3 linked regions of the Homo sapiens genome follow. The protein of the gene in region 3 purifies or fractionates together with the protein of the main gene of each other region. This does not show direct contact. Each region holds a gene or a part of one and is shown on either strand. Other genes may lie near its edges.

What was found.
Region 1: the proteins of ARF3 (region 3) and RAI1 purify together in Homo sapiens (affinity purification with mass spectrometry; one large-scale study listed by BioGRID and IntAct). This does not show direct contact.
Region 2: the proteins of ARF3 (region 3) and LOXL2 purify together in Homo sapiens (co-immunoprecipitation; one study listed by IntAct). This does not show direct contact.

Annotation. Positions count from the first base shown.
Region 1 is NC_000017.11:17,806,095-17,810,507, reverse strand, and holds part of RAI1 (retinoic acid-induced protein 1), read right to left. Parts: intron 1,119-4,413; coding exon 1,069-1,118; intron 539-1,068; coding exon 527-538; 3' UTR 1-526. UniProt on the Homo sapiens protein: Transcriptional regulator of the circadian clock components: CLOCK, BMAL1, BMAL2, PER1/3, CRY1/2, NR1D1/2 and RORA/C. Positively regulates the transcriptional activity of CLOCK a core component of the circadian clock.
Region 2 is NC_000008.11:23,369,571-23,373,983, forward strand, and holds part of LOXL2 (lysyl oxidase homolog 2 precursor), read right to left. Parts: intron 1-4,413. UniProt on the Homo sapiens protein: Mediates the post-translational oxidative deamination of lysine residues on target proteins leading to the formation of deaminated lysine (allysine).
Region 3 is NC_000012.12:48,943,161-48,948,297, forward strand, and holds part of ARF3 (ADP-ribosylation factor 3), read right to left. Parts: intron 1-5,137.

The sequences.
Region 1 (4,413 bases), on a different chromosome or scaffold from region 3:
CTTTCTCCCCCGCCTAGTCCACGGAGCTAGGAGCCGCCCTCCGCCTCTTCCAGTACTGTTTCGACCCCCACCCCCAAGCCCAGGGCTCCCAGCTGCACGCCACGACCGACTGGGGTGGCGGCAGCACCCACGTGGAATGTGTGCCACGTCGTCTTGAGATTCCAGAGGGAAAGTGTCCCCAGGACAAAGCCGTCTCCCACCCTCGCCGGAGGCTGAGCGCCCCGGGGAGTCTGGCCGCTCCGCGGGCTCCCCCTCCGCAAGCCTGGCCCCTGGGGTGGGCAAGAACGCCCTGTGCCGTCCGGTTCCGGGAGCAGGCGGCTCCGGAACGGGTTTTCCTCCCAACCCGGGGCCGCAAGTCTGAGCCCTAGGCGGCCGGATCCACGATCCGGGACCCGGATCAAGGATCGGCTCTGGACCAGCGCTGGGAGCAGCTCAAAGGCCCGGGGGCTGCGCAGGCGGCTCCTCTCCTTCGGCGGCGGGCGGGCAGGCGGGCTCCGGCGGCTCCTCCGGCCGTTGGGGTGGATTACTACGGCAGCCTCTGCAAAAGACGCCCGCCCGCCAGTTACCGACGACCTCGGACTTCACAGTCCATAGGCCCCGCCCCCAGTGTGGGCCCCCCGCCTAAGCCCCAGACCCAGGCGACCCCAGAGCGCGGCTGGGGTCTCCGCCCGAGGCCGTCGGCACCACCCCTTCTGGCCCCACCCCGTCCAGCTTCACCTTCACCTTCGCCTTCAGCTCCGTGCCACCGTCCCGCGCCCCCGCCTGCCCCACTCTGTCACCTATCTTGGGGAGCTGCAGGGAGGCCGTCCCAGGGACGCCCTCCAGCCCCTGGCTGCCCATGCCCCGACGCCTGCGGGTTTTCGGCGGCGGCGGCGCGCAAGTGGACAGGGACCTGAGCTGGACGGCGGCGGGGGCTCCTGGGGGTGGGCGGGGAGAGCTCCCTCCCCTAGGGCTGGGCCCTGCGGGGCTGCGCAGCCAAGGGGGCCCAGGGGACTGTGAAGGAGGTGCGAGGTGGGGCTCCTCTCCCGCTTGACACCCCTCGCCCTACAAAACACTGTGGTCCCCTACCTTATGTTTGGGACATTTCAAAGAAAAGTTCTCTTCGATGAATATGCAACCTGTGACCAAAGAGAAGTTTCGGTGGTTAGGACAGGGTGGGGGCCCCACAGCTGTGGGGTTTTGTCTGCAGCCAGGAGGGGAGCCGCACTGCCCGCGAGGCTCCAGACTGCAGGGGCTCTTTTCAAAGAGTTAATCAGATTCTGCACAAAACCCTCCACACTCCACTCCACTCCACGGCGCGGGTGCGGCCCCTGGCCTGGCAGTCTTGACTCACCTCACCTCCTCCGCGGAGAGCTTTTCCCCCTGAGTTCCACGTGCCGCCCCTCCTCACTTGAGGCAGTCCCTCAGTCCCTCCCTCCCTCCCGCCTTACTCTGCCAGCCACACTTGTCACTGCCTCCTAAGAGACTGGCCTGTGTGATCTTGTCTTGCTCCTTGTTTCTTCCCCACTGGCAGGCAAGCTCCCAGAGGGCACCAGCTCTGTCTTCTTCCCTGGATGTATGCCCAGCCCCTGGAAGAGCTCACTAACTTCCAGTGAGCATGTCATGAACCCCTGTGGACGGACTGGTAGTGGTGTTGCAAGCCTGGATTTGAGCATCTGCTACTTCTCTGAGCCTCAGTCTCCACATCTGTAAAATGGGCATTATGCCACCTACTGTATGCCTATCATGGAGATTGAGGATGGGAGTGTATAGAAACCATCTTGGCAGCAGCAGTGGCTCATGTCTGTAATCCCAGCACTTTGGGAGGATGAGGTGAATGAATCGCTTGAGCCCAGGAGTTCAAGACCAGCCTGGGCAACATGGCAAAACCTCATCTCTATCAAAAATACAAAAATTAGCCAGCATGGTGGCGCATGCCTGTAGTCCCAGCTACTCGAGAGGCTGGGGCGGGAGGATCACTTGAGCCTGGGAGGCGGAGGTTGCAGTGAGCTGTGATTGTACCACTGCACCCCTGCCTGGGCAACACAGCCAGGCCCTGTCTGAGATGAAATAAAATAAAATAAAATAAAATAAAATAAAATAAAATAAAATAATAAAATAAAATAAAATAAAATAAAATAATAAAATAAAATATAAAATAAAATAAAATTTAAAAATAAACCACCCTGCACATGTGTGGCATGCAGTGGGCGCAGGAGGCAGGGGCAGAGAGGACAACCAAGCATGGCCAGTGCTTATGCCCACCTAGGCCCAGGAGGTGTTGCTATCTCAGGGAGTCTCCACTCCCCTGCCTACTGCCACCTAGGGAGAAGCTGGCTTTTCCCCCAGGGACCCCCCAGTCTCTAGTCCCCTTCTCGGCTCCCCTCCCCCAAAGCCTCACCAGCCACTGTTCTGAACAAACCCCAGACCCAAAAGTAGCTGGAGGCTGGTGCTCTCTCCAACACAATCTTCCTGTTCACACTGGAGGTGGCTCTGTGCAATGGCATCATGACAGGGTGGTGGCCAGAAGGCAGGGCAGGGACAGCTCTGCAGCCCTGAGGGCAGGGCTGGGTGGTAGCAGGCCTCTCTGAGGCGATCTGCCCTTGTCTCCAGAAGCTGGAGTGCCACGGACCTGGAAACTGCCATTCAGGGCCAGCAGCTAGAGATGTGCCACGGCTGTTCCCCTTCCCTTGGCTCAGGCAAGCCAGATGTGGTTCTGGGGCTGAACTAGATATTCCAAAGACACTAGGCTAAAATCCCAGGCCTGCCCCTGGCACGCCTGGGTAGCTGCGGGCACTCCCACCAAGGGAAGTTGAGGGTAGGAGGTCGCCACTTCCAAACTGGCTCCCTCAGCACTGCCCCAGCACCACCCCACATGGGGCACGGGGCGGGAGTCACTGGGCAAGGCCAGTCCTCAGTGATCTGGCTCCTGACCTGGTGCCTGCACCTGGGGAACCTGGGCACTCACTGACAGGTTGGCCCCAGGGCCTGAGTGGGGAAAGGTTGAGACAGGACACTGTGGTGTAGCAGCCTCTGCCTGCTCTTCAGTCACTGCTTGTCTCCAAAGTGGGTTCCTTAACAAGAATTGGAAGGGGGCAGGATGAGTAGGCCAGGACAGCGCAGTGCAGGGCAGAGGCTGGCAGCCAGTGGGCAGCCCTGGTGCCCTGCAGTCCCAGTGCCTGACACAGAGGCCTGGGGCTCCTCCCTGGCCAGACATCAGATCAGCCTGACCAGCCCACTCCCTCAGTGCCCTCTCACTCCCACCCCCCCGCCCCCCCCACCGCCTGGCTGGCAGAGTCACGCTGGGGGCCCTCCCTGCACCCCAAGCGCCCGTCCTCCCCGCCTTCACTCTCGAGCTCACTTGTTCTCCCTCGCCTTCTCTGGCAGCTGTTCCTCAGTTTCCCAGGGGTCCACCCTCCTCCTCAGCCAGCTGTTCCATGGTGAACACAACCCTGCTATTTTGTCCCTTCCAGGGCTCTGATGAGCCCTCGCCTGCTGATGGTGGGCGAGACTCGATCCTGAGCCCAGCTATCTACACTTTGTATGTCCACAGCTGCCTCTACTGCCGTGTGGCCAAAGGGAACTGCCGTGTGTGTAGATGGCCTGGCAGAGCAGCCCAGTCCCCTCCCCGCACCCAGGTCCTTTGTGGTGTGGCTCTGCAGCTCACCCCAGGTGGCCTGCACTTCTCTGTGCTGGACTTGGGACCTGCTTTGGCTAACAGAACGTGGTAAAGTCCAGGACCTAGGCTGTGAGTGGCCCTGTGACCTCCACTCTCTCAAAGCCCTGGGGCTGCCATGAGGACGCACCCAGGCCAGCCTGCTGGAGGATGAGAGATTGATGGAGCAAAGACAAGCTGGCACAGCTGGGGCCACCCTAGATCATCCTGCTCCCAGCAGAGCCTGCAGCCAACTCACGCCCTTTTGAGAACTAATGAAGGGCTGGTGCTGGAGACATGAAGCTGGGCCTGGAAGGGCCAGTAGCTCTGCAGCAGCAGCTAATACTCCATTTGCACGTCCACACCCTACTTCTCCCCTTCATGGGGAAGCTGGGCATCAGGCTTGTCACCTCCCTCTCCCTCATCATCAAGTCCCATGGATTCTGTGCCAACTCAGTCTCTGAGGTGTATGTCTCCATTTGCAGCATTCCCAGTCCCTTTCCTGCCTCAATCTTCACGGTGCTACAGGGATCCCTGTTATATGAGGAATCCTTCTAGGATTTTATCTGAAATAAAAGTTCTCTTGCTCAAAGCCTAGTATACAAGTCCCACCACTAAACAGTTGCTACAAAGCTCCCCCGATCTTTTGAGGCCTGGCTTAAATGTCACCTCCTCCTGGAAGTCTTCCTAGATTTCTCCCTTGTTCAGACAGGATGAACCTCTTCCACAGTGCATACTCTCTCCTTCCCGTCTGGTCTCCCTAACTGTGGCCAAGAACC
Region 2 (4,413 bases), on a different chromosome or scaffold from region 3:
AGGGATGATCTGCCTTGGAGTGAGGCAGTTCCATGTCTGTTGGGTGACCAGCAGTGCTCAGTGCCCCGAAGAGGATGCTGGGGTGGAGATGTTAGAGCCTGGGGGACAGTCAGAACTGAGGATTTTGGAAAGCTTTCTGATGTCACCGGAGAGCCAGCCATGCTCATCCTGTGACTAACAAACAAGGCCAGAAAGTGATGGAGGGTTCCTGTGATAGCTCCTGACCAACGGACCAACGCACAGCCTGACCCCCTAGTAGTGTGGCTCTGAAGGGAATCAGGGTCCTGGCCACTCATCATTCCCATCAAAGCACATCTGCATCCTCAAGCTTACCTATGCCTCACAAGAACCTTGGGGAGTAGAAGAGGCAGGTATTATTAGGATTCTTATTTTACAACAAAATCAAGAACCAGAGAGGGTTAGAGATTTTGCCAGAGTTGCACAGTTACTGCAAGCAAAGCCAGAATGGGTCACTCCCAATGTGCCATCCCATATAAAAAGTCCTGGTTCAGCTTGGATACAAAAGCCTTTATGTGTGGCACGTGCCTACCTTCCCTGCTTCGGTTCCCACGACGGTGTCTCCCTTCTCTCACCCCAGCCCTGCCCATGGCACACATCCCATCATATCAGCCTATACCAGCTTCAGCTTTTGACACCTAGAACAACGCGCCTCCATCCCCTCCCCTCCCCTCCAAATGGCACCTGGTGCAATCCTTCCTGTTCTTCACAGAGACCTTCCTAGGTCCTCCTATCAGATTGAATGTATTTCTGCTTCCCTTTGACATCACATTTTGCTGGTGCTTTACATTGTTGTCATGTCTGGCTCTGCCACCGGACCCTCAGGCCCAAGGGACAGAAACCACCTCTTTGTCATTTCTGCTCAGCAACACATCTGCCTCTGGATGTATCAGGCTACCTTGCAGTAGATAAAGCTACCTGCCAAGAACAACTAGAAAAGGAAGGTAAAATATTAAAAACATATGTTCGAAGACACGAGAAAGCTACCGAGGCACCAAGGACTGAAGGAACCAAGAATCCAGAGAGATGGGAAGGGCATTGAGGTGAGGCTCACTTTTGTCTCTGCTTTCCCCCGGAAGATACTCGCCAATTCCACGGCAGTGATCAACAGGCTGAGAAGCTAAGCAAAGCTGCAGGCAGCCTCCAGGGACTGGGGAGACCGGGAGTTCAGAACCTGCCAAGGACAAAGGGACCTGTTAAACAGCTCCAGGCTCTCAGATGCATTCCTGAAGAGCTGCACTCTAGAAGCCAGGGCATAGGAAGGTCTGACATTCCCATAAATGGAATCCCAAAGAAGAGGAGAGAAAGGATGTGCAGAGGAAATAATGGAAGAAATAATGGCCTAGAATTTTCCAGAATGACAAAAGACATCAAGCCCACACAGTATAGTTTACAAGGAAAACCACATCTGGGCACATCGAAATCCAACTGCAGAGAAGACAAGATAGAAAGAAAAATCTTAAACACAGGGTAGAGGAGCTGAGTTACCTTAGAAAGAGCAGCAGAAAGACTAACAGCTGGTCCCCTCAACACAAATAAGGAGACAAGACTTCAACAGCGCAACATTTTCAAAGGGCGGAAAAAAATAAGTCTGCCTAGAATCTGTGCCCAGTGAAGAGAACGAAGGTAAAATAAGGACATCCCAGATAAACAAAAGAGGAGCGAGTCTGTCACCAGAATACCCACAAGACGGAAATACTACAGGGAATTCTTCAGGCAAAAGGAAAAATCATCCCAGATGTCAGTAAGGAGGCGTAGGAAGGAATGAAGAGTATGAAGTAGGAAATGATGTAGGTAAATCTCAATGAAGATCGAGTGTGTAAAACAGGAAGAATGTCCTGTGGGGTTTAAAATACATGTATGATTAAAATGCATGGCAACTGGCTGGGTGCAGTGGCTCACGCCTGTAATCCCAGCACTTTGGGAGGCTGAGGCGGGCGGATCACAAGGTCAGGAGATCAAGCCCATCCCGGCTAACACGGTGAAACCCCGTCTCTACTAAAAATACAAAAAATTAGCCGGGCATGGTGGCGGGCACCTGTAGTCCCAGCTACTCGGGAGGCTGAGGCAGGAGAATGGCGTGAACCCAGGAGGTGGAGGTTGCAGTGAGCCGAGGTCACGCCACTGCACTCCAGCCTGGGCGAAAGAGTGAGAGTCTGTCTCAAAAAAAAAAAAAAAAAAAAAAAAAAAAAAAAAATGCATGGCAAGCGCAGCACGAAAGGCAGGAAGGCATTAAATGGAGCTCAAGTGGTTTGAGGTTCTTGTGTTGTCTGGGAAGTGGTAAAAGTACTATTGTCTATTAGACTTTAGCAAGTCTAATAAATGCATGTTGTAATCTTTATAGGAATCATTGTAAGAACCATATACTGAAAGAAAAGTACAACTAACAGGTTAATAAGGGGGTTTGGGGGAGAAATGGTAGAATTAAAAAATACTTGATTAATCCAAAATTGAAGCAATAAAACAAATAAAAAGTAACATAAAACAATTGTTACAAATAGAAAAAATATTAGATGGTGGGTTTAAACTCCAATATATCAGTAATTACATTAGATAAAATAAATACTCCAATTAAAAGACAAAGATCATCAGAACGAATATAACAAAACAATTCAGCTTTACATTTCTTTTTCTTTTTTTTTTTTGAGATGGAGTCTTGCTCTGTTGCCCAGGCTGGAGTGTGCAGTGGCGCGATCTCAGCTCACTGCAACCACTGCCTCCTGGGTTCAAGCGATTCTCCTGCCTTAGCCCCTCGAGTAGCTGGGATTCCAGGCATGTACCACCACGCCTGGCCAATTTTTGTATTTTGAGTAGAGATGGGGTTTCACCATGTTGGCCAGGCTGGTCTCAAACCCCTGACCTCAAGTGATCCATCCGCCTCAGCCTCCCAAAGTGCTGGGATTACAGGTGTGAGCCACCACGCCCAGCCCAATCCAGCTTTATATTTCTTAGAAGAGACACAGAGGCTTAATGTAAAAGGATGGAAACAGATATACCATGCGTACATTAACCAGAGGGAAACTTGTACGATCAAGCTGACCTTAACACAAGAAACATTACCAGAGACAAAAAGGGACAGTTTACGATAATGAAAGTCAATCCACCAGGATAATGTAACTCTTCTAAACGTACGTGCATAGCTTCAATATATATAAAAGAAATATTGATAGAACTAAAAGGAAAAAATAGACAAATTCATAATCAGAGTGGGAGATTTTTACACACCTCTGTCAGTAACGGATAGAAGACACAGAAAAATCCTGGGGTTGAAGATGTGAATGACATAATTAACAAACTTAACCTAATTCACAAGTTTCTATAAACTGTACTCAGCAACTGCAGAAGGCAGCTATGCTCCAGGGACACATGGAACATATAATGATACAAACATATTAAGATATTAAGATACAATGATATTATGCAGAATATGTTGTTTGACTACAACAGAATTCAGCTATAAACCATTAATAAAAGAACAAGTAGAAAATCCCCAAATATTTGGGAATGTTGGATGAGGAAATCTATTATCATGCATCTCCATCCAGCTCACAGTACTAAATTGATTTATTCATTCAACAAGAATTCATTGAGCTCCTACTATACCTCAGGCCCTGCTGGGAGTAGAGGTCTTCTTTCCCATGGAGCTGACTGCCTAGCTGGAGTTCGCCTACAAGGTATCAATGATTGTTCATGGTCTGAACTACCTGAGCCAGCGGAGGGGGGGCCTAACTTTGAATTCAGGAAGGTTTTCCTCTTCTACACTGCCTGGCAGGGTCTTGCCGTGTCACCCAGGCTGAAGTGCAGTGGCGTGATCATAGCTCACCGCAGCCTCGAACTCTTGAGCCCAAGAGATCCTCCTACTCAGCTGCCCGTGTAGCTGGAACTACAGGCAAGAGCCACCATGCCTAGCTAAGTTTTTGGGTTGCTTTTTAATTTTTAAATGTATCCATCTTGTGGAAATTAAAGACAGAAAGCCAATGAATTGCCAAAGGTCACACAGAGTGCTTGGCAAGCAGCTAACATTAATAGAGCACCCCCATGTGCAGGCACTGTTCTCAACGCTCTAGTGTTTTAATTCACTTGATGTGGTAGGCACTGTTATTATCCTTGGGAGGAAACTGAGGGACAGAGAAGTTTGATAACTTGCCTAAAGTTGCGCAGACGGTAAATGCAAGCCAGGATCTGAAGGTGGTGGCAGGCTGACCTGGGCTCTGTCCCCCACCGCGAAGCTCTACTACCCCCAGCCTGGCACTGTCTCTCTCCCTCCCCTGACTTTCCCACCCCCATCCCCCAAGGGCTTCAGAGACTTCCAGATCCTCTAATCCTGTCCCAGAAAGAAATGAAAAAAATATGTGGTCTTGCAACATTTCTTTTTTTATACTGTAAGTTCTAGGG
Region 3 (5,137 bases):
CAGGACCAAAAGAATCATTATGAAGGTATAAAATGTCTATCTGCTCACCCCAGCCATTGCCCCAACAGACAGAATCAGATTCATTCATTCATTCCCTTTCTTCTTCCCTCTCTTCTCTATGGCACAGGATAGCCACAGAAATGCATCTTTGAAACAATAATAAAATGAGGATTCAGAATCACCCATACAAACCAGTTCTCTGTGCCTGCAGGAGGCATGTGTCAGCGGGCAGCTTATTCAGCAATCACCATATGCCAGCTGCTGGCATTCTCTAGAGTCTGGGAACCAGAGACACACACACACCCCAAACTCAGCAGCCAAAGGGACAGGTCAAGACAAAGTGCGCCCAAACCCAAGAATGTGAAAGGTGGACGGGGAGGAATCCTATTTACAAGCTAACGCATGGGGGTTTGGTGGGAGTTTGGTTGTTTTTACAAAAACTTCTGACATTTCCCCCACCACCCTTCTCAGTTTGCAGCAAATTCCAGACTAGTGCAACTGAGCCAGATCAACAGTCCCTGAAGACCAAAGTACTAGTTTGTCCGAAAAAACAGAAACAATGAGTGCTTATGAAGTGTTTCATCTTCAAAAGGCCTCCCCAGACAGCCACTAATGAGCCAGGCGTGGCACTCTCAGTAGGTTCCCCAGATGAGCCCTACCCCTGACCTAGAGGGTTCACACACCAGGAAGAAGGGCTAGCTCAACCTTAGGGTTCAACTTCAGTCAAGCCACCCGCTAGCCTTCCTCCCTACTCTTCCTGCCTCAACCCACCCAGGTGGACAGACTCCTGAGGACCCCTGAGCGACCTACCCAGCTAAGAACAGCTCTCACCAACCTTGGCAATTTGTAGTAGTGACTTTTGGTCATACTACTAACACCTCATGAAATTTAAACCTTTCCCAAGTCTTCCTAGTCTTCTAGCCTTTATTCTGCCTCTTGCTCAGGCAGCCTTTCCTTCAGCTCCAGATGACACTTTGCTTTAAAGGTTTGGTATCAGGCTTTGGCCCAGATTCTGAATTAAATTTATGCCACACATTTATCTTGCTGTCCTTTATGACTGAAACTATTGCTGATTAAATGCTTACCAACTGTGAGTATAGTGGTGGCTGAAAAAGATATAACTAGCCAATATGCCTTGCCCCAGAACACAGGTACACTGTCCTTTGATTTGCTTCTTTGCTCGGCTGTCATGCTGAAGTCCTGGTTCAAAAGCTGATCCCAGTGTTACACCTATTATTTCCTGGCATGCCACATCAAGGCCTTACTTTGAATGACCTTAACCACTCAATGTGGCACTTACTACCTTGTCGAGTTTTTCTTCTTTTATAAGTCTGTGTATTTACTGCTTCCCACGTTAAGCTGTGTATTCCCTATGTGCAAAGACTATGTCTACTTATTTTGAATCTGTCCTCCCTCTAGTGCCAAGTAGATTGTGGGAGTTCAATTAAGCACATTGGCTGATTTAAGCCTCATCTGAGGATGTCCTTATATTATTTCTTCTGTCCAGTAGGATTTGGTATCTCTGTGTAATGCACAGCGAGTTGCTTAGCTATCCTGTCCATTCTCAGCCATTTTCCACACATATTTGACGCAGGACTGGTTTGGGAACAACATAAAAGGACTAGAAGACTAGAATTGGTGGGATTCTCTCTTGCCATTTAATATACAGTGGGACTGATGAATAACTGATAAAATATCTAAATAGCTGGCCAGGCATGGTGGCTCATGCCTGTAATCCCAGCACTTTGGGAGGCTGAGGTGGGCGTATCACCTGAGGCTGGGAGTTTGACACCAGCCTGGCCAACATGGTGAAGCCCCATCTCTATTAAAAATATAAAAATTAGCTGGGCATGGTGGTGCGCGCCTGTACTCAGGAAGCCGAGGCAGGAGAACCGCTGGAATCCAGGAGGCAGAGGTTACAGTGAGCTGAGATCATGCCGCTGGCACTCCAGCCTGGTTGACAGAGGAAGACTCTGTCTTAAAAAAAAAAAAAAAAAAAAAAGGCCGGGCACAGTGGCTCACGCCTGTAATCCCAGCACTTTGGGAGGCTGAGGTGGGTGGATCACCTGAGGTCAGGAGTTCGAGACCAGCCTGGCCAACATGGTGAAACCCCGTCTCTATTAAAAACCCAAAAATTGGCCGGGTGCGGTGGCTCACACCTGTAATCCCAGCACTCTGGGAGGCCAAGGCGGGCGGAACACGAGGTCAGGAGATCGAGACCATCCTGGCTAATACAGTGAAACCCTGTCTCTGCTAAAAATACAAAAAAATTAGCCGGGTGTGGTGGCTACTCGGGAGGCTGAGGCAGGAGAATTGCTGGAACCTGGGAGGTGGAGGTTGCAGCGAGTCGATATCATGCCATCACACTCCAGCCCGGGCAGACAACAGCAAGACTCTGTCTCAAAAAAAAAAATTAGCTGGGCGTGGTGGTACATGCTTGTAGCACCAGCTACTCCAGAGGCTCAGGCAGGAGAATCGCTTGAACCCAGGAAGCAGAGGTTGCAGTGAGCCGAGATCACGCCACTGCACTCCAGCCTGTGTAACACTGAGACTCCATCTCAAAAAATAAATATCCAGTAGCTATCATGTATCTCCCTGGCACAGCCCAGGACCTTGAAACTAATGGATGTTATGACTCCTCCTCTTTATTTATTTATTTTTTTTGAGACAGTCTCGCTCTGTCACCCAGGCTGGAGTGCAGAGGCAGAGGTTGCTCACTGCAACTTCTGCCTCCCAAGTTCAAGTGATTCTTGTGCCTCAGCCTCCCGAGTAGCTGGGATTACAGGCATGTGCCACCATGCCTTGCTAATTTTTATATTTTTAGTAGAGACGGGGTTTTGCCATGCTGGCCAGGCTGGTCTCAAACTCCTGGCCTCAAGCAATCCACCTGCCTTGGCCTCCTGAAGTGCTGGGATTACAGGCACGACCCACCACGTCTGGCCATGACTTTTCTTTAAGTATAATCTGGAGCTTGACTTAAATGAGCATTTCAAAGGGGATGCTGGCTTTCTTGTCTTGGTTTTCCCTGTCCCTTGCTAATACCAGAGAGCATGCTGCCCTACCACCAAGATGGTAGCAGCTTTCTGCTTTGTGCCATGAATACAAATCTCTGGCTATACAGCCTATTCTCACTTTCACAATACATTCCTAAAAAAGCACTAGGAAGCAGAATGGCAAAGCAAACAAACCATGAATTGTTTCTCCATGTATTATATAGCCTATAGTTACTCTCTTTCACCACAGATGGTACTCCTGTGTTTATAGGGCAAAATGCCAGGGTTCCATTGGCTGTTGGATACCAAGAATAAGCAGTTAAGACTGAAAGTGAGTGGCTCAAGATGAAAAATGGAATATACTAACATCTCTGTTAAAAAGATATCTGCAGGTTCTGTTTTACAGTCAGAAACTTTATTATCACAGGTAAAAATAACAATAGGAACCCAAATATGTGCTCTAGTACAATCTGTGTGGGACACTGTAGGAATTCAGTTAAGCACATCAGTTGATTTAAGCCTCATCTAAGGATATCCTCACTTGAGGACAACTCACTGCTCCCACCTCATCCCCCCAGGAGAAGCAGGCTGTTGCTGTAACTGGCTACTCAGCCATCTTTCCTTACATATGTTGCAGGAACGTGCCTGCCTCAATCTCCAGGTGCTTTTGAGAGTCACACATCCCAGTCGGCCACACATACTCCCTCTACCTGATTCCAGTGAATGATCCAAGAATGTGCTATGAGACACCTCTGAGGGGACTCCTGATCTGGCACTACCTCCTCCTCTTCAGCGTCCAGGGGAAGGAAGACCAGGGTCTCCCAAACCCTCTGCTGCCAGGCAGAGTGCAGTAAAAACAGCTTTGTTCTTAGATAATTTTCAAATTGAAATATCACTAAGAGATGCTATTTTTAGCACAGCTAACCAAACAGACCAATACAATTTAAAGAAACAAAAGCAGAGTACGCCCGTACTGAGTTTTCTTGGTGCAGCTGGCTCGTGACCTGTGTAAACTCCAAGTTTTTGTCTCAAGAGCACTGAAATCAGAACATAAGAACTCCTAGATGATATCTGAACTATTTCGACTAGACTTAAAGATTTCCCAAAGTTAAGAAATAGCTTCTGATACCAGCTTTCATCCATTCATCAAACTTTTTTTTTTTTTTTTTTTTTGAGACAATCTCGCTCTCTCGCCCAGGCTGGGGTGCAGTGGCGCAATCTCGGCTCACTGCAACCTCCGCCTCCCAAGTTCAAGCGATTCTCCTGCCTCAGCCTCCCGAGTAGATGGGACTACAGGCGCATGCCACCACACCTGGCTAATTTTTTGCATTTTTAGTAGAGACAGGATTTCACCATGTTAACCAGGATGGTCTTGATCTCCTGACCTTGTGATCTGCCCACCTCTGCCCCCCAAAGTGCTGGGATTACAGGCGTGGGCCACCGTGCCTGGCCTCATTCATCAAACATTTATTGGGCATACTGAACTAGGGATACAGAGAGGGAGACAGTTTCTGCCTTCATGAAACTCAGTCTTTAATGGAAAAGACTAGTGAAGACAGGACTACAAAACAGTGTGAGAGTAAGAGTAAAGCACATAGTATTATGTGAACAGAAAGCTGGAGCAGTAAATCAACACTGAAGGGTAAAGGGTGATTCTGAAACCTAATTCTCAGGTCATACCTGAGCTGGCTCCTAAAGGAAGACGAGGAAGTAATCAGACAATAAAGAGGGAGTTGGGCAGGGGAAGTGTGTGCAAAGGCATAAAGACTGAGCCAGGCACAGCAGGACACACCTGTAATCCCAGCACTTTGGGAGGCTGATGCAAGAAGATTGCCTGAGGCCAGGAGTTCAAGGCCAGCCTGGGCAACATGGCAAAAGCCCATCGCTACAAAAAAAAAAAAAAAAGCTGGGTGTGGTGGTGCACGCCTGTAGTCCCAACTACTCAGGAGGCTGAGACAAGAGAATCACCTGAGCCCAGGAAGTTGTGGCTGCAGTGAGCCATGATCACGCCACTGCACTCCAGCCCAGGTGACAGAGTGAGAGAATATGTCTCAAAAAAAAGAAAAAGAAAAAAAGACCTAAGTTTCAGATAGCACTTTAAAAAAATTTATATAATCTTTTTTTTTTTTTTAAAGAGATGAGGT